Linked DNA regions of Homo sapiens. The protein of the gene in region 1 purifies or fractionates together with the protein of each later gene. This does not show direct contact. Each region holds a gene or a part of one and is shown in the gene's direction. Other genes may lie near its edges.

The links.
Region 2: the proteins of PTCH1 (region 1) and POMGNT2 purify together in Homo sapiens (affinity purification with mass spectrometry; 3 studies listed by BioGRID and IntAct, with this or other methods). This does not show direct contact.
Region 3: the proteins of PTCH1 (region 1) and CHST12 purify together in Homo sapiens (affinity purification with mass spectrometry; 3 studies listed by BioGRID and IntAct, with this or other methods). This does not show direct contact.
Region 4: the proteins of PTCH1 (region 1) and SULF2 purify together in Homo sapiens (affinity purification with mass spectrometry; 3 studies listed by BioGRID and IntAct, with this or other methods). This does not show direct contact.

Annotation. Positions count from the first base shown.
Region 1 is NC_000009.12:95,499,245-95,506,266, reverse strand, and holds part of PTCH1 (protein patched homolog 1), read left to right. Parts: intron 1-7,022.
Region 2 is NC_000003.12:43,103,073-43,110,975, reverse strand, and holds the start of POMGNT2 (protein O-linked-mannose beta-1,4-N-acetylglucosaminyltransferase 2), read left to right. Parts: upstream 1-4,896; 5' UTR 4,897-5,140; intron 5,141-7,903. UniProt on the Homo sapiens protein: O-linked mannose beta-1,4-N-acetylglucosaminyltransferase that transfers UDP-N-acetyl-D-glucosamine to the 4-position of the mannose to generate N-acetyl-D-glucosamine-beta-1,4-O-D-mannosylprotein.
Region 3 is NC_000007.14:2,399,508-2,406,615, forward strand, and holds the start of CHST12 (carbohydrate sulfotransferase 12), read left to right. Parts: upstream 1-4,103; 5' UTR 4,104-4,166; exon of another isoform or gene 4,167-5,523; coding exon of another isoform or gene 5,524-5,593; intron 5,594-7,108. UniProt on the Homo sapiens protein: Catalyzes the transfer of sulfate to position 4 of the N-acetylgalactosamine (GalNAc) residue of chondroitin and desulfated dermatan sulfate.
Region 4 is NC_000020.11:47,663,480-47,670,501, reverse strand, and holds part of SULF2 (extracellular sulfatase Sulf-2 isoform a precursor), read left to right. Parts: intron 1-4,013; coding exon 4,014-4,242; intron 4,243-4,344; coding exon of another isoform or gene 4,345-4,414; intron 4,415-4,545; coding exon of another isoform or gene 4,546-4,548; coding exon 4,549-4,645; intron 4,646-5,208; coding exon 5,209-5,303; intron 5,304-6,312; coding exon 6,313-6,372; intron 6,373-6,879; coding exon 6,880-7,022. UniProt on the Homo sapiens protein: Exhibits arylsulfatase activity and highly specific endoglucosamine-6-sulfatase activity. It can remove sulfate from the C-6 position of glucosamine within specific subregions of intact heparin.

The DNA of each region.
Region 1 (7,022 bases):
GGGCGCCTGGCCGGGAGCCAGGCCCGCCCGACAAAGGCCGCGCTGTAATCTACTCGGGGCGCTGCGCCGGCCGAGGTGTGGTGGGAGAGAGCGGCGGGGGCGGGACGGGGGCGCGGGGCCCCTCCGGGACGGACCACTCTGCGCGCCGGGGGCCCCGGGCCCGCCGCCGCTGCCGCTGTCCGCCTGGGCCGCGCCCCGAGAGGCGCCCCGGGGCTGGCCTCTCCCGGCCCCGCTCCGCGGCCCGGCTTTCTTCTCTCCCCCACCCCCACCCACCGCGTCCAAAGAAAAAGGAGTCGGGGAGAGCCAGAGGCCACCCCTCCGGCTGGCTGGAGTGTGCGCGCCCCCGGCGGCCGCGGCCGCCGCGCTGGGGAGGGCCGGGGGCGGGCGCAGCGCGGGGCTGCGGAGGCGGCGGCGTGTGTGGTCCTGTTTTTGGACAGCTTTCAACTCTGAGGGAAAAAAACATTTGTCTCAAGGTACAAAAAACGCGGGGTGGGGGTGGAAGGAGTGGAAAAAAAAATAGTAAGGCACAGACTGGAACGCATGTTTGCAAAGTAGATTAATGTTTCCTCGCGGGTGGGGGCTTTTTACATGGAATTATTCTGGGGGAAGGCTGCATTTTGCAGGCAAAGAAAAGAAATGTTTTAAGAACGCGGGGTTGAAGGGACCTCTCAGAGGGGTTCTGCCAGTCTTTTATCCACGTTCCTCAGTTTTGGGGTTCTTGAGACCTTAGCAAAGCAGTTGCAGATTTAAAATAGATATATATTTTTTCGAAGACAAACATTTTTACATTATTTTGGTGACAAAGGTTTCAATTTTTTTCCCCCGCTGGTTTCTTATTTATCTTTTTGGCAAGTTCCAAATCCTGCTATTTGGAAACACTTTAACCCTAAACACCACTTTGGGCATCCCTTACCTTACAAGAGGGTAGTAGGGGAGGGTAGAGGTGACTAGGTAGATAATTCAAACCAAAATACCTGGAGCATTCCTCCGGACAGCATGTGGAAGCTGAAGAGTTATGCGCATAATCGCTTCAGTGATCCCTTTCAGGATGCTGTTGGAGACCTTGAAGAATATTTCCTTAATCTCTCCTTGTTTGTGAAGATTCAGCTTGCAGAGTTTTGCAAGCCTGGGGTGGAGTTGGAGTATTTAGTTGAGAAGTGACAATTAAAATAATAGTCTACATAATTAAGACAAAACATTCCTGCCTTAAGTAGTTTGGTAATTAATACAAAAGCGTTCTTTGGATTGAATCCATGGAGTAATTTACCTCAGTTCAGCGATTCAGTATCACTGGTAGATAAAAGAAGGGTTTTATCGAGCAGCTATTATGCTCCTAGCAACAAGTTTCTTGAGCACCTATGATGTCCCTAGCACTGTGTTAAGCACCATAAGAGACTCAAGTGTGTGCGACACTGCACAATTTAAAACTATTAGAATTCGATGCATTTGGACTACATTTGGGTTCACAGCTGAAATGGGCTGTGAAAGTTACAAGAGGGTGGTAGGGGGTGGGGGGAGAGAACTGGAGACGGTAGGGGAAGGAGGGCATTTTAGGCATGGGCGGGACACCAGCAGGGGCCCCAGCTGAGGAGTTTGGAAGTGATGTGATTGGCTAGACTGTAGGGGCGCTGCCGTAGATTCTAGGACAGAATAGGGCATGAGGACAGGGAGGGCCGCTGCCGTAGATTCTTGGACAGAATAGGGCATGAGCACAGGGAGGGCCGGCTCATCCACCACTTGATCCAACCTGTATTTGTTGCCATCGGATGAGGATGACAAAACGTGATTTTGTGGTGTTCTTAGCAAGAGTTTTCAGTGGACCTTTGACATGTTGAAGGAGATAGAATGTGATTTATTTTCTTAACATTGCATATTTCTGGAAATAACTTGCTTTCTGCATAACACGACCCATTTCAAGTCCTGGAAGGAGATGCAGTGTGCTTCCTAGCAGTTTTATGGGAGCTGCCAGTTGTGTAGTGAGAGGGAGTAAAGTTTTTCTTTTTCAATGGACTGGATGAGGACACTTCTGAGGGGCACACTCACTTTGCTTACTTTTGGCAGTTTCAGCATGACTCACTGGTCTTGGGCCAAATGTTATTTACTCAGTACTAATACTGTCACTTGTTGAGCAACTGCCATGTACCAGGCATTTGTTATATATTATCGCATGCCTTACGATTCAATAAAATAGCTATTATTATCTTTTTTTTTTTTTTTTTTTTTTTTTTTTTTTTTTTTTTTTTTGAGACGGAGTCTCGCTCTGTCGCCCAGGCCAGACTGCGGACTGCAGTGGCGCAATCTCGGCTCACTGCAAGCTCCACTTCCTGGGTTCACGCCATTCTCCTGCCTCAGCCTCCCGAGTAGCTGGGACTACAGGCGCCCGCCACCGCGCCCGGCTAATTTTTTGTATTTTTAGTAGAGACGGGGTTTCACCTTGTTAGCCAGGATGGTCTCGATCTCCTGACCTCATGATCCACCCGCCTCGGCCTCCCAAAGTGCTGGGATTACAGGCGTGAGCCACCGCGCCCGGCCCTATTTTGTTTTTATAACATGATAGTGGATGTAATGTCTTTATGATGAGGATTGTCCCATTTTACAGATGGGAAACTATGGGTTGTCTGTTTGTCTCCAGGTCTACTTTGCCTACTAATGACATAAGTCACTTGTTCTGTTGCCCTGTCCTTGATCTCTCATTCATTCATTCATTCATTCATTCTGTGCTAGATTCTCCCCCTAGAGAAGAAGCGACAGTTTCATAAATGCAGATAGACCCAACTAGAGAGGTGACTATACAACAGTAGCCATATAGATTTAATTTCATTTTCAAAGCAGAAGTGATTGTGTAGAGATCTTGTTTGTGACAGAGTGAGCTGAGTGTTCACGTCAGCAGTAAGTAGTGTGAGCATTTGCATTCAGGAGTAAGATTTCCCTGCTGTCCTATACCTCAGTGGACGTCCGTGAATTGAAGTGAGTAATAGCTCCACATTTAAGTTCATTTTGTGCATCAGTCTCATAGATAAATTCCTCATCACTATCAGCAAAGAAATCTGTTAGATGCTGCTTTCTTGGTAGGTTGTTCTTAAGGTTCTAGACATGAATTTTTATATGAACTGGGCATCAACAGAGTGCTTGCTACACAAACGAAATGGATAGAGGTAGCATATTGCCCTAGTTAGAAAACAACAGAAGAGAGGAAAGTATGAGATTTTAAGGGGAGAGGGATGCTGAGGGATAGTTTGGAAGAAGCTCCTTCTCCTGCGGTTTAAAATCACAGGAGCGTGTGTGTGTATGCACATTGTCTTATTCTGCATATCCTCCTATCTGCCAAAGGCATGTTAATGTTATCTTTTTAATACAGCCAGCAAATTAAAGGGATCCACTCGAAAGGCTGTGTCTTCAAATTGACTTTCATGCTTTGTTTAACATGCTGGGGAAATGTGGCTTTATAAAGAGTTGGCTTTATAAAGAGGGCAGAATACATCAGCCACAATGTGCAGACTAATATATGCTAGATGAGAAAGAGTCCGTGTGTGTGCATGCGCGTGTGTGTGCGTGTGTAGGAATTGGTGATAAGAATTATTGTATTCTGTTGTTAAAATGTCCATATAATGATTGCCTTTTAATAAACTGTCAATTATATGTTAAGATACCAGCTTGAGTTTTAGGGTTATAGTGTTTGCTAATCAAAATTGTCAAATCAGTTTCACATATGTGCGGAGTAATGAGGTTTGATAGAGAATATGTTGACTGATGTAGTGGACATCTGCTGTTGCAGAAACACATGACCATGGCAGCAAGGTGGGGGAGAAACTAATTGTCATTGTATAAAAATAGAAGCGTTCATTCTGCACATGTTCTCAGTACCTACTCTGCACCACCATTGCAGAAAGCTCTCCAGAGAGATGTTGGTGAAAAGCCACAGTCTCTGCCCTCAGGGGAACTCCATCCAAACATTCAGCAGGTACACGGACTGGTGTGTGGGTAGTTAACATGAAGGACAGCAGTGCCAAGATGGCAGGAAAATCGGGGACATCTTCCAGGATGGCCTCAAGGGTGGAGGCCTGAGCTAGGCACAGGGGCTGGAGGGGAGAGGGTAGGGGGCATTCAGGGCAGAAGGAACAGCATAGGCAAAGGCTCAGAGAACAGGAATGTGGCCTCCTGGAGGGCAGCCTCCCTTTGTGGGTCGTTGAGGTTGGGTGGGAGCCTGGAAGCTGGGCTCGTCCCTCAGGGCCATTTCACAGAAGTCTCCCTGCTTGGCTGGGGGCTGTCAGCTCTTCCTACTAGCCATCCCTGTCTCACGAGTGTGCTCACGTGTTGGCCTCTAGTGTTTTCCCTGGAGCCACGAATGCTTCACCTGGATCTCACCTTTCTGGGCACAGACTGGTGTTATTTTTAATCTTGCCTGTTTCTTTGTTGGTATTTCCTTTTTGTTAAGCAGTTTTAACCCATCTCCCTCAGTATCTATTTCTTTTCATATCAGCCCCCTCACTGCAGCCCTCCCTCAGAACAAGTTTCTTGTCAAGCTTCTCCAGCGATAGAACATTCATTTATTTCTTTGAGCTTTTTGTTTTTTCTAAAAGCTTGCCCAGCTCCTGGCCTCCTTTTCTGCAGAGGGCAGCAGCCTTGTAATGAATCCATATTGCTTTGGTGTTTGGATGTTAACATTGCTGCAGGCCAGCGTCAAGGAAGAAGGAGGCAAGTTGTGACTTTGACTTTTTTTTTTTTTTAAGAAAAATAGAAGAAATTGTTTTTTAAAATACATGCTTGGTATGTGTAAGTGCTTTCAAGTTTGTACCTTGCTAGTGTTAATGCTTTCAGTGTTCTTGAACTCAGGCAATCAGTTGTAGGAGATAACTGAGTTTCACCACTCCTTCAATTTGGAGCAAGGTCCCTCAACCTCAGGACTATTGACATTGGGGCTGGATCATCCTCTGTTGTTGGGGGCTGTTCTGTGCACTATAAGATGTTTAGCAGCATCCTGGTTTCTACCTACTAGATGCCAGTAGCACCCTCCCAGTTGTGACAACCAGAATGTTTCCAGTCATTGCCAGATGTCACTGGGGGAGAGGGTGTCCCAAATCATCACGATTGAGACCCACTGGTTTAGATGATAAAAAGATTTTGATTGGAAGACTCATGCTGTGCAGATGGAAGACGTTTATTATGATGGAGTTGTGGCTACAATGCATTGCAGAGATGCAAGAGTATTAATCTTCTTTAAGATAACTCCCCCATCCCATTCCTGTATTTATAGACCCAGATAACTATTTTTCTTAGAATGACATTAAATGTCAAAGAAAAACACCGTGATGGGTCGAAAGAGGAAAGAGGCCATGGAAGAAAGAAATAATTTATATTTGGGTACCTTTTGGTGGGGGGTATCTAAATTTGCAGAAAGACTGGTTGCACCTCAACCCCAGTAGCCTGAAGGTTTTTAGCATGGTTGACTTTCTGAAAAGCTTTAATAGAAGACACCACTGCCTTTGTGCATATTGAAATAACAGCTCCTTCAGAAGCCCGGCTAGTGTGTGAACTCCTTGGTGGTCTCATTCTCCTCCAGATGTTTCTGTCACAAACCACTCCCCCTTGTCCCCCCAGGAGCCCTTGTGGAGCAGAACCAAGGGACAGCAAGGGACCAGTCCCAGCCAGAAGGGCAGAATGGATTCTGCTGTCACTGCCCTTCCACAGTGAGCACCTGGTTTCTTTTCTCTGGGGTTGCCATTGTGGGGGCATTTCACAAGGGACAGGAAGAAAAATGCAGCTCCTTTCTGCTCCCTGGACCCCCATACATGGTTTAGAAGGGAGAATATGTTTATAGGTATTTATTAGTTTCTACTACTGGGTATGCACATTTAGGTGGAAGCAGTTGTGATATTTCTTTCATATTTGGAGAAAAACGATTGGAAATGAGAAGCCACCAATGATTGTTTAAAAAAGAACAAATAGCCCTCAGGTGTCTTCTACACAGGGCAGTTGACCCTGCGAATCCTCCCTATCTCTTTGCTGTCTGCCATTCTTGACCCTTCACCAAGTTGAGAGGACAGGTTGGGTAATGGGGTGTTTCAGATACATAGGATGCCGCTCAGAGGTTCCAGAAGATGACAGCTTCCAGATGTATGAACAGCCTGATCCGTGTGTTTAGATTATGCACCACAGCTGATGCCGAGATTAATGCTGGCTGGACAAGCCATGGGAGATTTGTCTGGTTTCCACAATGCCATGTTTATGTTTCATTTGAGTTTCTCCTTCAAAGCTGACCTGCCTGTGACCCTGGGCTCTGTCCACTCGGGCAAGCTGAAACTCGGGCAAGCTGAAACTCGTCTGCCCTGTTCTCCTGCTTGTATTGGGGTAGGGGAGAGTCACAATTGGGCGGAGAAAGGGGCGCTTTGGTGGCCGCCTTCTGCCTCACCATGCCAGCTATCTGCCCAGATTTAGCCCCTGATGAGTGTTCAGTTCTCCTCGGGGATGTGTTTCACTGTAAAAGGTTTTTTGGCTTTTAAAACAAATATGGAAATATTATAAAATAACTGTAAAGGGGACCAGATTTAATAGAAGCCACTTTGCATAAATGTAGTATTTTAACTTCTGGCACTCTTTTGACACTATTTAGGGGGAGAAAAAGTTGAGGGAATTTCAGCTATGTCAGACACCCCCACATAATAACCATGGCTGTGTCATCCTATTATAATACTATTAATGTTTCCTGTGCCCCTCGCTGGCTCCCAGAACCTCTGCTGCCTCCTCCCTCTCTCCCCTGCCCCCTTCCCTCCTGCCCCTTCTCCCGCCCACCCACTCTAACCTGCCCACGTCATTTCCTTCCAAGTGGATCTCTGCAGTTACTAGTGTGAACTCTGAAATGGTAGTAAGTCTGGCTAATCACAACCTAAGAGGAGGGAATGAGAACATTTATTATTTCAAGCCAGCTGTGGGAGATACTAGATACAGAGCTGCCATTTGCATCCTTGGCATTCTTATTTTGGTTAGGGTTGGTTCCAAGACCACACTCTTTGATGGGCTCTTGG
Region 2 (7,903 bases), on another chromosome or scaffold:
CAGCCAGGTCACTTGCAGATTTTGGACCCAAACAAATGGTGAGACATAACAAATGATCATTGTTGTTTTATGCCACTAAGTTTTGGGGTGATTTTTTATGCAGCAGTAGATAACTAATATGGGATGATAATATTCATTATCTGATGTTACATAATCAGATTTGAAAACCTAGTGGCTCAAAAATAACTAAAATCATTGATTATTTATTGTGGTTTCTGTGGGTCAAAAATTTAGATAAAGCACAACAGGGACAGATTAACTTTGCTGTGATGTTCAGGGTATCAGCTAAGGTGGCTTGAAAGCTATGGGCTTGTATTAGTCTGTTCTTGCACCTCTATAAAGAACTACCTGAGACTGGGTAATGTATGAAGAAAAGAGGCCTAATTGACTCACAGTTCTGCAGGCCGTACAGGAAGCACGGCTGGGGAGGCCTCAGGAAACTTACAATCATAATGGAAAGTGAAGGGGGAGCAAGCACATATTCACATGGTGACAGGAGAGAGAGCTTGCAAAGCAGGAAGTGCCACACACTTTTAAACCATCAGGTCTCGTGAGATCTCACTCACTATCATGAGAACAGCAAGGGGGAAATCTGCCCCCATGATCCAATTACCTCCAACCTGGTCCTTCTCACAACATTGGGGACTGCAATTCACCCTGAGATTTAGGCGGGGACACAGAGCCAAACCATATCAGGGCTGGAGTCATCTGAGGGCTCATTCGCTCATATATCTGGCAATATATATTGGTTGTCAGTTGAAAGCCTAGCTGGGGCTGCTGGCTGGTATACCCATTGTTATGGACTGAATGGTATCCCCCTGCCCTCGAATTCATATGCGGAAGCCCAAACCTTCAATACGTCAGAACATGACTGTACTTGGAGATATGGCCTTTGAGAGGTAATTGGGTTAAAATGAGGTGATTAGGCTCATTTTTGGGTTAGGCCATAATCCAATCTGACTGGTATACTCATAAGAAGAGGAGATTGGGACACACAAGAGACACCAAGGATGGGCATCCATAGGGAAAAGGCATGTGGGGGCTCAGTAAGAAGGCGGCCATCCTCAAGCTATGGAGAGAGGCCTCAGAAGACACCAACCCTGCTGACACCTCGATCTTGGACTTCCAACCTCCAGAACGGTGAGAAGTAAATCTCTGTTTTTTAAGCTGCCCAGTCTGAAATTTTGGTATGGCAGCTCTAACACATTAATACACTCATGCAGGTCCTATCCATGTAACCTGAGCTTCCTCACAACATGGTGAATCTGTTCCCAAGGCAACCAGAGAGAGACAGAGAGAGGATGTACCACTTTTATGACCCAGTTTCAGAAGTCACATAGCATCACTTCTGACATTTTCTGTTCATTGAAGTGAGTTACTAAGTTATGCCCATATTTGAGGGAAGGGAACTAGACTCCCCCTTTCAAAGGAAAAATAGTCAAATAATTTGCAGACATATTTAAAAACCATCCCAATCTTTACCATCACCACCATGTTCATCATGCAGATTTTAAGATCCTAGCAGGCCAGCCAGGTGGAGGTGTGTATGCCCCAAGCAACTTGGATTGGGAATGTGGATCTGGAATTCAGGGCTAGAGATGTGGGTTTGGAAGGCATCCACACAGAGAAATAGAAAGGGAATATGACCCCAGACAAAGGGAGAGGGCTTGGACTTGAGGAATGCCTAACTCAGCTTGGCATGCATGAATATGGATTTAAAATGCTGGGAAAGACCTCAAAAAGCCAGCTACCTAAGCCACCTTGGATATTTAATAAAAAGAAATGTACTAGTTTTTTCCAGTCTACTAAAGCTTCCTACCAGCAATGCTCCACAGCCAGAATAGTTTTCAAAACATGATGGACTCAAAGATGATCAGTGTCTGCAAACTGGGTCCTAGGTGACTTACAGGCCATCCTGTTAGATCCTATCCAGGAGATTCAGCTTTGGCCAGAACCCAATCCCTGTCCACCTCCAGCAAGGGGCTGCTCTCTTGGACTGTTAGGTGCCTCTTTCTATCAGTGACTATGACTGGCTATCTTATAGAGACCCATAAACTCAACATAGGAGCTTTTTAAAACTTAGAAGTTTTTTAAACAACTTATATTTAAAATAACAAAACAATATATGTTCACTTCAGAATAAATTCATACAGGTAACCAGCAAGATGACAATAAAAAAACACCCATAGTCTTACCACCCTGGGTCATGGCTCATTGAAATTTTGCTGATATCCTTCTGTGCTCTGTGCTGTTACTGTGCACAAATATATTCTTTTTAAAAATGGGATCTTATGGAATATTTTATACTTTTTTCATTAAATATGATATAATGTGAAATGTCTTCCACTCTATTAAGTAAATACTATTTTGCAGCATCTTTTCAATGATTTCTGAGATGATCTGTGATTTTACTTAATCCTGCATGACTGAGGAATTAAGCAGTTTCCAAATTTGTTTTTTTTCCTACTTTTTATCTTGAAATAATTATAGATTTGTGAAAATCTATAATAAGATAGTACAGAGAGGAATCTCTTCATCCAGTTTCCCCCAATGGTTACATTGTACGTAATTATAATACAATATAAAAATCAGGAATTTAACCTTGATAGAAAGTTTGTGTGTAGTTTTAGTCATTTTATCACATGTGTAGATTTGTGTAACCACTACCACAATCAAGACAAAGAACTATTTCATCAGTACAAAGGCTTCCCTTCTGTTACCCTTATATATTCACACCTACACCCTGTCTTCAACCTCTGACAACCACTAATATTTTCTCCATCTCTATAGTTTTGTCATTTCAAGAATGTTATACAAATGGCAACCAGAGTATGTAACCTTTTGAGACTGACTTTTTTTCACCCAGCATAATGCCCAAGTTGTGGCATGTGTCAATTGTGCCTTTCTATTGTTGAATGATATTCTTTATATAGATGTAATCACAGTTTATTTAACCATTCACCTATCGAGGGGCATTTTGTTTGTTGACAGTTTTTGACAATTACAAATAAAGAAAGTAGGAACAATTGTGTACAAGTTTGTGTGTTAACATAAGTTTCCATTTCTCTGGAATAGATGCTCAGGAGTGTGATTGATGAGTCATATGGGAAGCATATGTTTAGTTTTTTAAAAGAAACTACCATGATATACCCATCTGTGAGTAATATATGAGAGATCCAGTTCTGTGCATACTCACCAGCATTTGCTATTTTATTTTTTAAGCTGTTTTGTAGTTGTTGTTGTTGTTTGTTTGTTTTTGAGATGGAGTCTTGCTCTGTAGCCCAGACTGGAGTGCAGTGGCGCGATCTCGGTTCACTGCAACCTCCGCCTCCTGGGTTCAAGTGATTCTCCCCTGCCTCAGCCTCCTGAGTAGCCGGGTTTACAGACGCGCACCAACACATCCAGCTAATTTTTGTATTTTTAGTAGAGACGAGGTTTCACCATGTTGGCCAGGCTGGTCTTGAACTCCTGACCTCGTGATTCGCCAGCCATGGCCTCCCAAAGTGCTGGCATTACAGGCATGAGCCACCGCGCCCTGCCTTTTTAAGCTGTTTTAAATAGGTGTATGGTGATATCTCAGCATAGTCTTAATTTGCATTTCCTTTATGGCTAGTGATGAACATCTGTCCTTATTTGCCATCTGTATAACTACTTTGGTAAAATATATATTAATGTCTTCTGTATATTTAAAAACTTATGATCCAGGATACAGTTTATCTTAATATATATACCAAGGTTGCTTGAAAAGAATGTGTATTCTGTTGGTGGGTGAAGTATTATGTAAATATCAATTAGATTAGGATGGTATTAGTGTTGATCTTTTCTATATCCTTGCTGACTTTCTGTCTAGTGTTCTATCAGTTGTTGAGAGAGGGATGCTGAAGTTTCCAATTACAGTTGCAGAGTTGTCTATTTCTAATTATGGTTCTATCATTTGATTTATTTATGTTAAGGCTATGTCGTTAGGTGTATCCACATTTAGAATTATGTCTTCTTGGTGAATTGAACCTTTTATCATTATATAATTATCCCTTTTTTATTCTTGGTAATTTTCCTTGCTGTCAATTCTACTCTCTCTGAAAGTAATATCACCACTTCAGCCTTTCAGTTTATTATCATCTAAACAACACTATTCAGCCTTTGCAGTCATCCACAATTATTAGAATTTCTTGGTTAGAGGCTTTTGACTACATGTTTTTAAAGGTTTTTGGCTGTATTGACAAATTGCCCTGCAAAAATTTACCAACTTAATACCTTAACATTTGGGCTAATTTAAAATAATCATAAATTAAAGTCAGGGCTTTCCCAATTTGATAGGTAGAAATCTTATAACTCTATGGAGGTGGAGTTGGTGGTGGTAGGTGCATCTCTAGATGACTTAAGTTCAAAAAAAGTCAAGAGATCTAAAAAAGAAGTCAAAAGATCTAAAATTCATAACTCAAGAAATAGGGGCATATGTATATTCGGAGAATCCGCGGGAATGCCAGATGCCACAGCCATAAGTAGCTGCCCTTGAGGACTGGACAGCCAGGACTGGACGGTGGGATAAGGTGACAGCTGGTTAATGGAATGGTGCCGCAGAGGACTGGTGCTTTTGTAAGTTCTCTGTAGCATTACAATTTTTAAAAGCATGTAAACGTATTAATTACCTTGACTTTACAATGACATTTGGTTGTTGGTTAAACTTGCATTTAAATTTATTATCAGAACTGCCATAACTGTGTAATCCTAACACTAAGTAAAACTCAGCCTCTCGGCGCAAATTATCACTCCCAACATTCCGCAGGCTGGTGGCGGCGCGGGCTGTCCTCGTACGCAAAACTACACCTCCCAGGATTCCGCGAGCCAAGGTTGTGGCCGGGGCCAGGGCAACCGAACTCGCGGCTCTGCGCAGGCGCACAGGCTCCGCGCCGGGCTCGCCCGCCGGGCAGGCGCACGGCGGACACCTGCGAGCCTGGAGGTGGCGGTCGCTGCGAACCCGGCGGCGCGGCCAAACCTGTGCTGGCTGCCTGGGCCTTCTGGGCCTCCTGGGCCAGAAGCTGGCGCTGGGGGCGGCGGCGGGGTGGGAAAGCGGCGCCGCCGTGGGGCCTCCTGGACGCGTCGGCGGAGGTGGCTTCGTCCCGCGGAGTCCAGGCTTCAGGTAAGACGCGCGCGCGCTTGGGGCTGGAGCGGACTCCGACACCCGCCTGGGACTTGAAGTGGAGGTGTCGAACCCTCGGCCCCCTGGAGGGGACGACGCGGTGCTGGGCCCCGGGGTGAGGGGGAGGTTCTAGGACGCCTTCGGGATCCAGGAGAGTTTGCAGAACTGAGGGGTGACGTGTGAAGCGAGCTGAGGGAGGCGCGGGAGGTGGGCGGGGCGGGGGTGGACCCTCAGGGTCGGGGGCCGGGGATTGGGGGTCGGGGGCCGGGGGCCGGGGACCTGGGCAACGCCCTGGGGCTTGCCAGTTCGAGCCCTCAGCTCGTGGCAGGCACTGGCGTCGGGTCCTCAGGCCCTTTTGCTTTGGGAGGTGATGGGTGGTGCACATTTGGCGGGGGTGGTGGGGAGCCACGCGAGGTGCGCGGAGCGGGCCTGGGCCTCCCCAACTGCCTTTGAAGGCAGAACCCCGGCAGGCCTGCAGCTGATTCCTGGGCGCTTTGGGGGCCAGTAGGGCACCTACCATGTGTGTCCGGTGGTAAGAGCTTGCCACGGCCTGCTTGGCAGTGCCAGAGTAGCCTCTGAAGAAGGAACCCAGTGAACTCCTGACTCCATGTGTGTGTTTAGGAACCCGTCTCCAGCTCACTGATGGGAACTCTCTGCTAAAGTATGTGACCGTCAGGCCAGAGTCTTGCACCAGGTGCAGGGCGACCAGTGTCTGCCTACTTTATTGCCAGCCAACACTTAGAGCGTACTCTTGGGAGAAGCAAGGCTCCGCGTGGAAAAGGATGACTTCAGGGTTATGGGGCGAGCTTGATAGGACTTAGTAGCTAAGAGCATAGACAGAGGAGGTTTCATTCACCAAATGTTTACTACAATATGTGCCCCGCCTTCAAATCTTGGTTCTCGGCTACTAGCGGTGTGCGTTTAAGCAAGTCACTTATCCTCTCTTAGCCTCTGTTTCTTTCTCTGTGAAGTGGAGATGAAAGTACAGTGCCTTTATCACGGGGTTGCAGTGGGGATGAAATAGTGCCAGGCAAGTCCTCAGCCCAGTATGTCTAACAGTAAGTGTGTGGCAAATATCAGCAGTCGTGGTGACTAACGACAGAAAGTGTTAGAGGTGCTTGGAGTCCAGGTTCATCTTTAATGGTACTAGCTGCCCTCTCTGGCTCTCATGAATCTTGCAGATCTTCCAGCTCATCCTTTCAATATTAATTTTGAGGAATCTCAGTCCCTGCAGAGCTAGGAAAGAGCATAGGTCCCCTCATCCCCAGGGGTGGTCAGCACGTTCCTTCCTGAGCCTTGGGCCCCTGCGAGAACGAGAAGGAGAGTGGAGATCTTCAGCAGAAAGGAGGGCATGGTGCTGGTGGCTGGGCCCACCGTGGCCATGTAAGCATGCTAGTTGGCAAGTTCTTGCTCTGAGCCTTGCTTTAGAAAATATTTAGCAATAAACAAAGCCTTCTAGTAAATATTGCACTAACTAGAAAATTAGATTACCAAATCCCCCATTCCAAGGGTCCTTGCCAATCTCAGCTTGGTTGTCAGTGGGATACTTTCCCCCCAGGACCTACCAATCACGTGATTCCCAGGGTTTCTTAAATTGGATGAAATAATGAATGTGAAAGGTGGAACCTGCAAATGTCATCACGGGCTTTGGAGTCCGTCTTGGTTTTGAATCCTAACCCCTCTACTTAATTGCTGTGTATCACTGGGCAATTCACTTAATGCCTCTAAGCATACCTTCTTAAATGTGAAATTGAATTAATAGCATTTACTTCAGGTAGTGGGGAATAAATGAGATAATGCGTGTAAAACAGTTAGCACTGTGCCTGGCTGAGAGTGAAAGCCAGTGAACAGGAGTTATTTTACCATTACGATTAATAATAATATTAGAAAAATAATTGTCAGACATGGTGTTTTGCCTTTGCTGTCTCTTTGAATTCACAAAACTACCCTGTGAAGTAGGTATAATTGTGTTTTTCAAGCCAGGAAGTGAAGGCTTGGAGAGGTAAAGAATTGGCCTAAGGTCACTTAGCTGCTAAGTGACAGGGATGGGAATTCATATCCTGGCATCTCCAGCTCCAGAACTGGTGCCATGTAATTCTCCTTCTCTGCTGCCCATCGTCCTTGCTGTTCTTGCATTCTTGAAGCCCAGTTATGACCTGGGGCAGCCTCCAGTCTTGCAGCAGGGAGTCTTCCCGCACCAAGTGGGTCAGAGGCAGGACCCTGCAGCCTGGCTGTGTGTTTCCTCTCTGTGGCTGGTGTTGGATGCATGGTGAAGCTGTAGGGGACAGTCCCTGAGTGAGTTCAGGGGAGGAGGTGTTAGGAAGAGGCAGCCCAGGCAAGCCCTGTCGCCTCTTTAGGGTCTCATCACTGGACAGCAGGGCTGGGTGAGGGGGCAGTGCTGGGTGAGGGTGCAGGCTGGGTGGGATCTGGGAAGCTTGTGTATGAGAAGAAATGCCTTCGTTTAGCTCCTGGGAAATGTTCTGGGGCTGCATAATTCTCTGAGCCTTATCTTTGCTTTGTGAGGGAGAGCAGCCCTTGAGCTGTGGATAAGGGAGGAGAAGGAGCCCTGGACTGAGAGCCAACATTCTGCCATTTTAATCCTGGCTGCCTGTGAGAGCTCACACTGCCTCTCCAGACCTCTTTTATGAAATAAAGAGTTGGAGGAAATCATTTCTAAGGGTTCTTGTAGCTCTAAAGGGCAGTGGTTTTGTAATTCTAAATTGATGGCCTAACCCTCTCAGCACAGTACCAGGGCACATGGGA
Region 3 (7,108 bases), on another chromosome or scaffold:
CCAGGCTGGTCTTCAACTCCTGACCTCAGGTGATCTGCCCGCCTCAGCCTCCCAAAGTTCTAGGATTATAGGTGTGAGCCACTGTGCCTGGCCCCTCTTGGATTTTCATATCATCTACATGGTTAATTGAATTTTCAATTCACAGACCTTGTTTTGTTTTGTTTTCATATCCTGTTAATGATGCTTATATGGATCCCAGGGCCAGAGGTCATCAGGATCTCCCCGCAGCAGCGTGGCCAACGTAGCGAGACCTCCATCTCTACAAAAAAACTAAAGAAATTAGCAAGGCATGGTGGTGTGCACCTGTAGTCCCAGCTACTCAGGGAGTTGAGCCCAGGAGGCTGAGGCTATAGTAAGCCATGATGGCACCATTGCACACTCCAGCTTGGGTGACAGAGCAAGACCTTGTCTCTAAAAAAAGAAAAAAAGAAAAAGAAAAAAAAACAAACAAACCAAAAACAAAAAAACCTCCCGGAATTCCATAGCTGTTACTATCAGTAGCAGCTAATGTTTCCTGGCTGGCCTCTTGCCCAGAAGCCACAGTTACCGCTTTTCCTTTGTTGCAACCCTGGCTATGAAACCAGAAATAGTTGTTGCTGGTAGAGACACTGAAATACCTCAAAGTAAAACCCAGAGGTTGGGCCAGGCTGTGGTCAGCTCCGGGGAGACCACAGACTTTGCAGAGGGGCCCAGGGTCCCTGAAGATGGGTGGCAGCCAATGGAGCTGCTGGGGAGGGGGATGGGCAGCCAGCCAGAAGGAGCCTGGAGCCTAGAAGAGGAGGAGATAAAAATCATCACAGTGAGGTGTCTCCAGGGCCGAGCTGAGGCCCTGGCCCAGGAAGTCTCAAGGCTGTAGCGTGGCTCCATCTTTGGGGTCCACAATTTGGATTCAGGTCCTGGCTCTGTCACTTACACAGCTCTGTGTCTCTGGCTAGTTGGTTACCTTCTCTGGTCCCCTGCTTCCTTATCTGTAAACCAGGAGATAAGGTATAGCCACTGCAGAGTGGGTAAGTAAAATGTATCTGCATGTTGCTGATGTAAGAGGCGAAGTTGCCATAAAGTAAAAGTAACCATTTGAAAGTGAACAATTCAGGAGCATTTAGTGCATTCGCAATGCTGCTGACGTAAGAGGTGAAATTAACATAACATAAAAGTAACCATTTTATTTATTTTTATTTTTTTATTATTATTTTTTTGAGACGGAGTCTCGCTCTGTCGCCCAGGCTGGAGTGCAGTGACACGATCTGGGCTCACTGCAAGCTCTCCCTCCCAGGTTCACGGATTCTCCTGCCTCAGCCTCCTGAGTAGCTGGGACTACAGGCGCCTGCCACTATGCCCAGCTAATTTTTTGTATTTTTAGTAGAGATGGGGTTTCTCTGCGTTAGCCAGGATGGTCTCCATCTCCTGACCTCGTGATCAGCCCGCCTCGGCCTCCCAAAGTGCTGGGACTACAGGCGTGAGCCACCGCTCCGGGCAGAAAGTAACCATTTTAAAATGAACAATTCAGGGGTCTTTAGTGTATTCAAAATGTTGCTGATGTAAGAGGTGAAGTTGACATAACACAAAAGTAACCATTTTACTTATTTATTTATTTATTTATTATTTTTGAGACAGAGTCTCACTCTGTCACCCAGGCTGGGGTGCAGTGGCATGATCTCCGCTTCCAGCCTCCACCTCTCAGGTTTTTTGTTTGTTTGTCTGAGACGGAGTCTCACTTTGTTGCCCAGGCTACAGTTCACTGGCGCGGTCTCGGCTCACTGCAACCTCCAGCCCCTGCGTTCAAGCGATTCTCCTGCCTCAGCCTCCTAACTGGGATTACAGGTGCCTGCCACCACACCCGGCTAATTTTTTGTATTTTTAGTAGAGACAGGGTTTCATCATGTGTTGGCCAGGCTGGTCTCGAATTCCTGATCTCGTGATCTGCCCGCCTACACCTCCCAAAGCACTGGGATCACAGGCGTGAGCCAACAAGCCCAGCTGACCTCTCAGGCTTAAGCGATTCTCCCACCTCAGCCTCCTGAGTGGCTGGGATTGCAGGCGCCCGCCACCAAGCCTGGCTAATTTTTGTATTTTTATTTTTAGTAGAGACAGGTTTCACCACGTTGGCCAGGCTGGTCTTGAACTCCTGACCTCAAGTGATCCACCCACTTCGGCCTCCCACAGTGCTGGGATTACAGGTGTGAGCCACTGCACACGGCTGATAGTGAGAAATTTCTAAGCTGAGACAGGCATCACAGGGTGACATTGCCAGAGGCTGTCACCTTATTTACATACGTGCAATTGCATATATGTATGTATACAACATAGACATATTATACATGCATAATACAGGTCTATATGTATGTGTACAATATATAAACATATATACTACATACATACACATAGGTAACATGTATGCATTACACATACGTATAAACATATTATCTACTGTGAGTGTGTATATAATATACACATATATTTTGTGGTGGTTGTTTGTTGCTTTTCCCCCCCACTAGAATACAGGAGGGCAGGGGCCTTGCCCGTCTCCCTCACTTCCACATTTCCAGGGCCCGGTGGGTTCGGAACTCCTTTGGGACTGGCTGCAGGGAGTGGAAGAGTGAAGAGATGACCTTGGTTGGAAGGCTGCCTCGGGAGTCCATCGGAGGGGGCCAACTAAAAATATCACGGATTGAAAAAGTTCTTGGGGTGGATGGTGGGGATGTGAAAGTGCTTAATGCCACTGCAGGGAGTGCTTAAAAATGGTTAAGATGGGCCGGGCGCGGCGGCTCACGCCTGTAATCCCAGCACTTTGGGAGGCCGAGGCGGGCGGATCACGAGGTCAGGAGTTCGAGACCATCCTGGCTAACACGGTGAAACCCCGTCTCTACTAAAAATACAAAAAATTAGCCGGGCGTGGTGGCGGGCGCCTGTAAGTCCCAGCTACCCGGGAGGCTGAGGCAGGAGAATGGCGTGAACCCGGGAGGCGGAGCTTGCAGTGAGCCGAGATCGGGCCACTGTATTCCAGCCTGGGCGACAGAGCGAGACTCTGTCTCAACAACAACAACAACGACAACAACAACAACAACAACAACAACAAAGGTTAAGATGGTAAATTTTATGTTCTATATATTTTACCATAATTTAAAAAAAAAATGACTGGGCCTGGCGCGGTGGCTCACGCCTGTAATCCCAGAGCTCTGGGAGGCTGAGGCAGGAGGATTGCTTGAGTCTAGGGGTTCAAGACCACCCTGGGCAACATAGTGAGACCCCCGTTTCTATTAAAAATTAAAAATTAGCCGGGTGTGGTGGCACCTGTCTGTAGTTCCATCTACTTGGGAGGCTGAGGTGGGAGGATGGCTTGAACCCAGGAGGTCGAGGCTGCAGTGAGCTGTGACTGCACCGCTGCACCCCATCCTGGACGACACGGTGAGATCCTGTCTCTAAAAAAATAAACAAACAAACACACAAAACTACATTGATGCCAAGAACAATTACTGCATGCTCACTATGCATTAGGCATCTTGCTAAGCTCTTTACCCGTGTCATCTCGTTTGTCTCACATACTCCCTGAAAGGTAGGGTCACTAACCTATTATATTTTACGGATTGGCGACAACCTCAGAGAGGTTAAGTCACTTGCCCAAGGTCACACAGCGAGTCTCAAGCCCCAGCCGGTGAGCATCACGATCCTTTGCCAATGAGCCGATGCTCGAGAAAGGGTCGGATAGACAACAGGCACTGCATAAAGGTTGGTTAACGGGATCGTGTTTGGCTGCAACGTGGAGCTCCCGGGTCGAACGGCGAGACAGCTGCGCGTCCCCGAGCCGCCGCGCGCCCGGTCCGCCGGGGCGGAGTCAACGCCGCGGATTGGCTGCTGAGAAAGGGGCGTGGCTCGTGGCGGCCGGTGGGCGGAGTCGATCTCTGGCCGTAAATACGGCGCCACATGGCACTGGCTCGCGAGGGCGGGGGCGGGCGGGCTGGCCGGGCGCAGGCGCGCTGAGGGCGGGCGCCCCTCGGCCTCCGTGGCCCCTCCGGCGGCCGCGACGTCTCGCGAGAAGACGACCGGTAGGAGGGGCTCCTGCGCCGGGGGCGGGGCCGGCGAGGGCTGCCTCTGGGGGGTCCGCTAGTCGCGGGGCGGCGGCGGCGGCTGCGGGCGCGAGGTGAGGGGCGCGAGGTGAGGGTCGCGAGGTGAGGGGCGCGGCGGGCGGCGGGCTCGGGGCGCGGTCTCCCTCTCTCTCGGCCAGTGCTGGGCTCCCAGGGCCCGGGCGGGGGTCCCGGGCCGCGCTGAGGGGCGCGGGTCGGCTCTCCTTAACCTGGCCTGGCGGGCGCGGCTTGGGCCTGGGTTCGAGTTCCCGCGCCGGCGCGCAGTGTGACCTTGGCCCTGCGCGCGCCCTCTCTGAGCCCCGCTCGTCGTCCTCGGCCAGGGGGACCCAGCCCTGGGGCCCTGATCAGCGCGTTCTGCGGCTCCTCGGGGTCTGGACGAGAAATCTGTGGTTCTGATTCAGCGACAGCAGAGGCTGCAGCGGCCCCGCCGGCCCCCAGGAGTCCCCCTGCCCGGCATCAGCCTCTGCCGCCCGGCAGGGGTAGGACCAATTCCCGGGCTTGGAGTTCCAGGATCCCCAGCTCCCGAGGGCCCCCGTGTGCCTGCTGTCACCTGAACGGGGCTCCCCGGCCCCGCCGACCGCAGCCCTGGAGCCTGCAGACGCCAGCAGCACCGGCAGGTCGCTCAGGGTATCCCTTAAATGACCTCTCACTCCAGAAGCCGCAGCCCTGCCCCTCTGGGAGAGGAAACCGTGCATTTAGTCCGGGAACAGTGGGACTTAGACCTCCTCTGCGGGCTCCCGGCCACCGAGACACCGCCGGCAAAGCCTTGGCTCGGGCAGAGGCTCCGTCTGGCAGGCAGCACAACAAGCCATAGTGTTTCCAGCATTATTAAATTATTTAGTTCATAAGCGGGGCTGTGGGGACTCGGAAGCCCCGGGGTGAATAGGAATGTGAGTTGCAGGCGCGGTGCTGGACGCAGTACATCTTCCAGGACACCAGGCCCTACGGTGCTGTTCCCGGCTGTGGGTGGTTGGGGACAGCTCAGCGGGTCCCCCACTTACCCCCACGCGGGGACCCGGGTTAGCCCCTCACCGTGAGCATCTGGTGTTGGGAGTCAGGGCTGGTGTCTGAGTGAGGATGGAGAGAAAACAGGGGTAATGAGGAGATTGCTACACGAAGGTGCAACGCTTGAGATCTGAAAGAGCACCTGCCTGGAATGGCATAGATGTTTGATTTCCCTGCAAAGGAGTTTATGGGACTTTGGGCTGACGCTTTGGGGCCAGCAGTAACTGTCTGCTGTCACTCAGCTGACTCCAGCTTTATTATCAAACCTCCAATCGAGTGCAAGATGCTAAGCTGGGGTAGATGCCGGTAATAGCGTGGGCCTTGCCCTGGGAGCTCACGGCCAGCCTGGCTACAACTGTGTGGAGTTGAGACTGTGGTGCAGGCGTTAACAGAATGTGGCGACATTTTCCGACATTTTCCACAGTGGAGAGGACCTATGAATTGGGGCGTTTGGAGGCAAAGGGCATGCAGAGATGTGGAAGTGAAAGTGATGTTTGGGGGAGATGGTGGGTCGCCGTGTTCTTGATGAAGTGGGGTTTGAGGATTGGGTTGGAAGCTAAGACTGGAAGGCCGGGCGAGGTGGCTCGTGACTGTAATCCCAGCACTTTGGGAGGCAGAGGCGGGCGGATCACCTGAGGTCAGGAGTCCGAGACCAGCCTGGCCAACATGGTGAAACCCCATCTCTACTAAAAATACAAAATTTAGCTGGGCGTGGTGGTGCACACCTGAAGTCCCAGCTACTTAGGAGGATGAGTCAAGAGAATAGCTTGAACCTGGAGGCGGAAGTTGCAGTGAGCCGACACTGGGCCTCTGCACTCCAGCCTGGGCAACAGAGTAAAAAAAAGACTGGAAAGATGGGTTTCTGATTGTGCAGGGGCCTGAATGCTGTGTGAGGGAGTTTAAACTTTTATCCCTTTGGTGGTGGTTTGGGTGCGACGCGATTAGATGTGTTTCAGAAAAGTGGTCGTGGTGAGAATATGGGAGGTGGGTTTTGCCTCTGGGCAGTGGAGCTGAGTTGAGTAGCCTTGTGGGGCGTGGGTCTGGGGCAGTGAGAGAGTGGGGGCGGGCATGGAGCTGAAAGATGTTGCCAAATCCACTGGGCGGTGGCGCTTTGTGAGATGTGGCGACCTGTAACAGCGAGGGCAGCCGGGACTTCTCACCTGCGATGAGGAGCGCTGCGGCCAGGTGGGAGAGGAAGGGCCACACAAACACACGTGGGTTTTAGACCTGCAGAGTTGGCGGTATTGGTGGCCATCCTGGAGGAGATGTGACCTGGTGGAGAAGAGACAGCCTGTACAAGGAGGGAATCCCCAGGAACCCCAGTGGGAAGGGATCCAGAGCTGAAGAGAGGCCCGTTGGTTGGCTGACCTTGGGCGTGCAGTTCCTTGACTACGCACAGTCATTGAGGCTGGCAGGTGATTCTCTTCTAGTGTGGGTCAGGGGCTGAAGGAGCCATCAGTGGGAAAAGACGGGTTATTGATGATACTGAAACACATGCGGCTTGTTTGTCATTTAAAAAAACCGTACATCTTGAGTTTCGATTCTTAAGTTGTCTTTCTTTTCGGAGAGTAGCTGTTAGTTTCACACTTGCTTAGTGGGTCTGTGGCTGCAGGCGGGACTGTGGTTCTCCAGCCCTGGCCCACAGATGTGCCTGGAGATAATTGACTCTCCAACTTATTACTTCCTGCTGTTAAGGTGGTGGTTTCTGTAACTGTTTAGAAACTTTAAAGATATTTCAGAGAAGAATGGGAGACAGGTACAGTTGAGTACGGGGTGGGGGCACAGTTGAGTATGGGGTGGGGGCACAGTTGAGTACGGGGTGGGGGAACAGTTGAGTATGGGGTGGGGGCACAGTTGAGTACGGGGTGGGGGCACAGTTGAGTACGGGGTGGGGGCACAGTTGAGTACGGGGTGGGGGCGCGGTTGAGTATGGGGTGGGGGCGCAGTGCTGAACAGGGCACAGGAGGAGGAAGCGAACAGGGACCCTTTGGCTCCCAGAACATGACCAGCTGGGGCTTTTC
Region 4 (7,022 bases), on another chromosome or scaffold:
TCTCCTTCCTGATCGGGCACAGTGGCTCACGCCTGTAATCCCAGCATTTCGGGAGGCCAAGGCAGGCGGATTGCCTGAGCTCAGAAGTTCGAGACCAGTCTGGCCAACAAGGTGAAACCCGTGTCTACTAAAAATACAAAAATTAGCCAGGCATGGTGGTGGGCGCCTGTAGTCCCTGCTACTCAGGAGGCTGAGGCACTAGAATGGCTTGAACCTGGGAGCGGGAGGTTGCAGTGAACTGAGATCATGCCACTTCACTCCAGCCTGGGTGACAGAGCAAGACTGTCTCAAAAAAAACAAAAAGTCTCCATTCTTTATAAGACGGATGATATTGTACCACAGACTAGTTAGAGATTGAGGTCTCTGACGGCAGGCGCAGTGATCTCCTCTGGTCCAGCCAGCCAGGCAGCAAATGTCTTCATCGTGGAGCAGATAAGTCTCTCTCCATAACAGCCCAGCCACTGCCTGAAACACCGTTTCCCAGCTGATGACCCTCCGTTACATTTCCTCACCAGCTGATTAGGAACTACTACATTAACTTTTCTAGCTGAACAGAATGATTGGTTTCCAGATTGGATTACACAGCCAGCATCTCCTTGCTTCAATATGTGGCACAGTCGATAATCTTTAAATAATACAAGATCTGGCAGGGAGAAATTCAGCTCTTTTCCCCTTATTAATGCTTAGAGGAAAGAAAAATACCTAAAAGTAGCTGAGAGTCAGCTCAGCCCTGGTCAGAATCCTCATGTGAGTGTAATGTCAGAGCCGGGACCTGCACCTCTCAACAGCCCTGTGAGCAGGGCAGGGGTGATCATCAGGGGATGATGGACAGGAAAGACTGGGTCACGTGGCTGATTTGGGGACTCCAGCCCCATCTCCTGCCTGGCATTCTTCCCCCTGCTAGAGTCTCCGACAAGACACTCTGTCCCTCTTTTCTGAGCAGTCAGCCTAGAGCAGGCTGAACTGGGGGCTTTCTGTCCCCCAGGGGACACTTGGCAATGTTTGGAGACAGTTTTGGCTGTCACAATTGTGTGTGATGGAGGGGTGCTGCTGGCGTCTAGTGAGCAGAGGCTATGGATGCGGCAAAACATCTTGCAACGCACAGGACGGCCCCCACCACAGAGTTTGATCTGACCCCAAAGTGTCCGCAGTGGTAAGGTTGGGAAGCCCTGGCCCACCTTGATCCACGGGGATCCTGGCTGTGGCGTGGGGAGGTTAGGCAGAGCCAGCCAGCTCACAGCAGAAGGGGGACCCAGGAACAGGAGAAGGGGACGAGGACTCGGGGGATGGGCCCAGCTGACTGGGGTTCATTCATTTCTTGAACTTTGTGCAAGACACTGAGATTAGAGTTGACCTGGAGAGACACGGACTTGGACCTCATGGATGAAACAAGATGTGAACAAGTGAACAAAGGGCCACTTCCGCTGGTGAAAAACGCATGAAGGAGACGCAGCGGTGGCGGGACTAGCAGAGAGGGGTGGCGGCTCCAGAATGGCGCTCAATGGACATTTAATGAGAACAAAGTACAGAAAGGAGCAGGTCTTGTGACCAGCCAGAGAGCAAGTGTTCTGAGGAGGAGGAAGATGGAGTACAAAGACCCTGTGCTCAGAATCAGGGCGGTGAGTCCCAGTCACAGAGAGGTGACCGGTGTGGCCGAGGGTGGTGAGAAGCACCATGGGCATGGGCAGCCACATCACACAGGCGGTCACCGGCGTGGAGAGGCAGGGAGTGGGCCCAGGGTTGTCACCTTAGGTGAGGACGTCAGCTGCAGGCAGAGTCCCCACCCCCTGCAGTAGCTGGTCCACACCAGCTCATCAGGCATGAATGCTTCACTAGTTCCGTTTCGTGCCATCCTCCAAGGAGCCTTTGTAGGGTAGGCACCATCCTGAGAAGTTACCCAAATCGCCGGGGCCACACATGTGCTCAGGGGTTTGCACCTGAGCCATCTGATTGCAGAGTCAAAGCTCTTGGCCGCCGGGTTATGAAGTCCTGTCCCATTCCCTGTTGGTGTGGCAGGAAGGGTACCTCCAGGACTCTGGACATGAACACAGAGTGATGGGGAGAGCAGGTAGTGTGGCTTCAGTCCAGGAAAGGATTCACACAGGGCTGGCATACCGCTTCTGTGAAGAGCCAGAGAGTAAAGGTCTTGGGCTTTGCAACTCAGCCCTGCGACTGCAGAGGTATAAGGGAATGCGAGCAGCTGTACCCAGTGAAACTGTATTCACAAAGACAGATGGAGGCTGGCCTGGGCCCTTAGGCCATGGTTTAGGGACCCCTGAATCTAGAGCTGGGAGATGGAGGGTGGAAAGAGGCAAAGCAGCTCACTTATGAGCCGACTGAGACAAAAGGAGTGGAGAGGACACGCTGGGTCTATTTCCTGAGCCTCTCGGGGCAGGACCTGCTTGGCACAGGGACCATCCTCGGCAATTTGTGTACTTGCATCGGGAGACTAAACCGAGGGAGAGAAGTGCCCAGGAGAAGGCTGCCCTGTGTCAGAAAAGGCCCAAGGCTCTGCTGGAGAGGGGAGGCCTTTCCCGGCCCCTCAGGATCCTTCGGCCCTTGTGACTCTGATGCAAGGTGTCTGAGAACTGAAAGATACAAAACATCCCCCAAGAGTGGGGGTGGCACCCGGGCCACGTGAGAAGGGAGCCCTTTCCTCCCTCCTTCCACTGCCTTCCGCCACCACCTGCCTCCAGCTGGTCCTCTTTGGTCACCATCTCGGGGTCACTTGGGATCCAACAAAACCTGGGTCACTAACTGGCTCCAGGCCCTTCTCTTTAAATGAGGCACATCTGGAGAAGGATGACAACTGCAGTGCGTGCCTGCTGGGGCCAGACATGTGTCAGGTGGGCAGAGGTTTTAAAACAGGAAGGAGTGGCGGGGGCTGTGGCCAACAGGGAAGACAGTGGGCAGCCAAAGGGGCCGCCCATCCCCGGCCCGTCCTGACCATATGGAACTGTGGGCCCGTGAGACATCTGTTTCCTTTCTGGAAGCTGGAAATCTGGATCCCTACATCACCGCCACCACCTCCCCTTTTTCTTTAATGTTACCAACTCAGATTTGTTTTTGAGACATAGAAGATACAGGCTACCTGGGGTGTCACTTCAGCCTGCACCCCTGAGTTTTCAGCGTCAGGGCGTATGCAAAAGCCCCCCTCAGCCTTGTTGCCGGCCCACCTGGGTGTAGCACCTGCCTACCACCTGGTGGGCAGCCTCCAGCTCTCTGGGACTCAAAGAAGCTAAGTGGCTTCCCCAGTCCCCGTCCATTTCTACCCAGAGACAGGCACTGCAGGGCCCCTTTTTCCCAGTTTAAATCAACATTTTTACATCCATGATACTTTTTTTCCTTTTTAATTGAGGTGAAGTTCAGATAACATCAAACTCACCATTTTTACAATTATATACAATGCAGAGGCATTTAATAGGTTCACAGTGTTGCACACCTCTACCTAGTTCCAAAACATTTCATCACCCCAAAAGGGAACCCCGTACCCACAAAGCAGTCACTCCTCACTACCCTCTCCCCCAGCCCCTGGCAATCACCAATCTTCTTTCTGCCGCTATAGATTTACCTATTCTGGGTAGTTCCTATAAATAGAATGTAACAATACGAGCCCGCTTTGTGTCTGGCTGGTTTCACTCCGCCTGCTTTTGACATTCATCCACGCTCTAGCGTGAATCAGAACCTCGCTCCTGGTTCTGGTCGCATATTCCGTTGTACAGATGATGTACCGCCATTTGTTTACCCGCAAGCAGCTCTCGCTTGAAATCCTCTTGAGTCAGTGGCTTCTTGGCTCCAGGACTTCCGTCTTGCCGGTGTGATCACCTCGAGGCCCTCCCCTGCGGTCCAGGATCTGCGAGCAGGCGGGTAGATTCCACGACCCCTCGAGTCGCAGGCAAAGCTGAGCCTCATGCTTGGAAGCCCGGCCCTATCTTGATGAAGGACCCACTGCCCTGGGAGCCTGGCCAGCCTTTCCTGCCTCCCTAACTCTGCCACTCCTCTAATGCCCACAGAGTACAAGGCCAGCTATGTCCGCAGTCGCTCCATCCGCTCAGTGGCCATCGAGGTGGACGGCAGGGTGTACCACGTAGGCCTGGGTGATGCCGCCCAGCCCCGAAACCTCACCAAGCGGCACTGGCCAGGGGCCCCTGAGGACCAAGATGACAAGGATGGTGGGGACTTCAGTGGCACTGGAGGCCTTCCCGACTACTCAGCCGCCAACCCCATTAAAGTGACACATCGGTGAGTGTCCAGGTGGAAGTCGAGGGTGAAGGGGACAGGACAGACCTCGGCAAAGGGCTTCCCACACCTCTTGGGCCCCTGAGGACCAAGATGACAAGGATGGTGGGGACTTCAGTGGCACTGGAGGCCTTCCCGACTATTCAGCCGCCAACCCCATTAAAGTGACACATCGGTGAGTGTCCAGGTGGAAGTCGAGGGTGAAGGGGACAGGACAGACCTCGGCAAGGGCTTCCCACACCTCTTGGGCACCTGGGCTGCTCCCCCTCCACCACCTCCGAGCCACACGTGATCCCTTCTCTCAAGCAGGTGCTACATCCTAGAGAACGACACAGTCCAGTGTGACCTGGACCTGTACAAGTCCCTGCAGGCCTGGAAAGACCACAAGCTGCACATCGACCACGAGGTGAGTGGAGAGCGGGAGAGGAGCATGCTCTCGGCCACCACGGGCCTGGCAGGACCCCCGGTTCACAGTGGGAGGGCAGTGAGGCCAGACCCAGGGAAGAGGCTGGAGAGGTGAAGTGAGGTCCCCACAGATTCCTCAACGCGGGGATAGGTGTCAGTCCCAGCATGAGACAGATAGCTTCCTGCCCAGGCCGTCTGAGGGACGATGGCTTAGCCACGTTGTCCCCCTTTTGACTTACAAGAAGTCTACGCTACAGGAGGCCTTTCATCAAACCCAGGGGAGACACTGGAGGCCTCAGTGGGCTCAGCGGGTTCCTGCGCAGGCCAGGCCGGAAAAATGACTCGGTTCCCTTGCAAGGGCTGGCTGGAGGAGAAGGCGGGCTTCCTTCAGGCAGAACAAGTACCTCCTCCCCACCCAGACATGCCGGTGCTTGCCCTGGGGCCCGGGGAGTGCAGGCTGCCGCTGCTGAGCACAGACACGGCAGCGTGGGGGCAGTCACCAGGCCAAGTCTTTGTTGTCCAGCCTTGAAGGTTTCAAGGCCTCCTCTTCTGCCCCTCCCTCAGATTGAAACCCTGCAGAACAAAATTAAGAACCTGAGGGAAGTCCGAGGTCACCTGAAGAAAAAGCGGCCAGAAGAATGTGACTGTCACAAAATCAGGTGAGGCAGTAGCAAAGGGACCTCCCTAAGACCCCACTCTCCTACAGGACAGTTCAGTTCATCCCCTCTCGTGATTGACCCCTTTCATTTTTTATTTTTATCTTTATCTTCTCCCCTCATGGCATTAAAAAAATCCGTAATTTACCTCCCTGTTGTCAGCCAGTGTGGCACACGGACCTGCTCCTCAGCCAGGCTGGCGCCCAGATTCCAGTACTGCTAGCAAGAGACCCGTGCTGGCTGCGCAGAGCCGGCTCCAGGCCGGAAAAGTGCCTCTGCCGATTGCCCTTTCAGAAATCCCCCATGTGGTTTGAGGTCCATGTTCCCGGCTTAGGGGTCCCCTGGCCCAAAGGACTGAACTCTAGAACAGCTCTAATAGAACATTCTGTGCTGACGGAAATGGGCTATATCTGCACTACACCACACGTGGCTGGTGCATACTTAAAATTTTGGCTAGTGTCACTAAGGAGCCAAATTTTTTATTTTGCTTAATTCAAATTGAAGTAGCCACCTGTGGCCAGTGGCTACCATACTGGACAGCACAGCTGTAGAAGCCCTGCTGTCTTTCCAGAAAGTGTTGCAAAACACAGGCTTCCCTGTGTTGACCCCGACCAAGTGTGAGTAGGCAGGGTGGTGAGGGAACCAACCTCAAGATGCTGAGGCTTTGACATGTAAAATTAACCATCAAAAAAGAAAGGAAAAAGGATGCTGAGGCTGATGCACCTAAAGCCAGGCCCAGCTTCTAGTCGTGGCTAAATTACAATTAACCCAACCTGCTAAAGTCTAGCAAAAGTCCAGGCAGAGTCCTGGCTCATGCTTGGAGAAAGAAGCCACTCAGGCAGGCACCTGCTGCCCTGAGGATAGGGTCATGCCCTACCCACCACCACCCCAGAAGGAGGGACAGGGGTGGGGCAGCAGCAACACATGGGAGTCCCAGAAATCACAGCTTGCACCTGCCAGCGGAGCCCTCTGAGCCACTCCTGAAGCCTGGGGCTGGGGGGGTCTGTTACAGCTACCACACCCAGCACAAAGGCCGCCTCAAGCACAGAGGCTCCAGTCTGCATCCTTTCAGGTAAGAGCAGCTTGAGGTCCTGGGGAAGAGATGCAGAGGCCTGCATGAGGAGGTGGCCCTCCCTTAAGCTAAAACTCAGAAGAAAAGGAAAGAAGTCCAGGCCCTTCCCTGGGAAGTCCACGGTAGCCCTCGAAGAGGCCTTACTTCCCAATCAACACTGAGCGGGCCTCCGACGCCCCCTTGTGGCTAAATGGGGTTACCGCAACTCCACCAAGCAGGGCAGGACACAGGAAGGAGGGGAAAGGGGTGTCAACAGGAGTCCCAGTAGCTGCCTGGTTCTGTCCCCAGCTTGTGCCCCCTTGGGAGTTAAAGTAGAATGACAAGACCCAGGTTCTGGTCCCGGCTCTGCCTTGGAGCAGCACTGGGACTTGGGACCCTGAATTGCTATGCCCATGGCTCTCTGTTGGAGAAGCCTCAGCGAAGCCCTTAGGTGGACAGGAAGAGCAGAGACATGGGGTCACTGATCCCTCAGAGGCCCAAGGTGTGTGTGGCCCTCTGCGCCCATAGGAAGGGCCTGCAAGAGAAGGACAAGGTGTGGCTGTTGCGGGAGCAGAAGCGCAAGAAGAAACTCCGCAAGCTGCTCAAGCGCCTGCAGAACAACGACACGTGCAGCATGCCAGGCCTCACGTGCTTCACCCACGACAACCAGC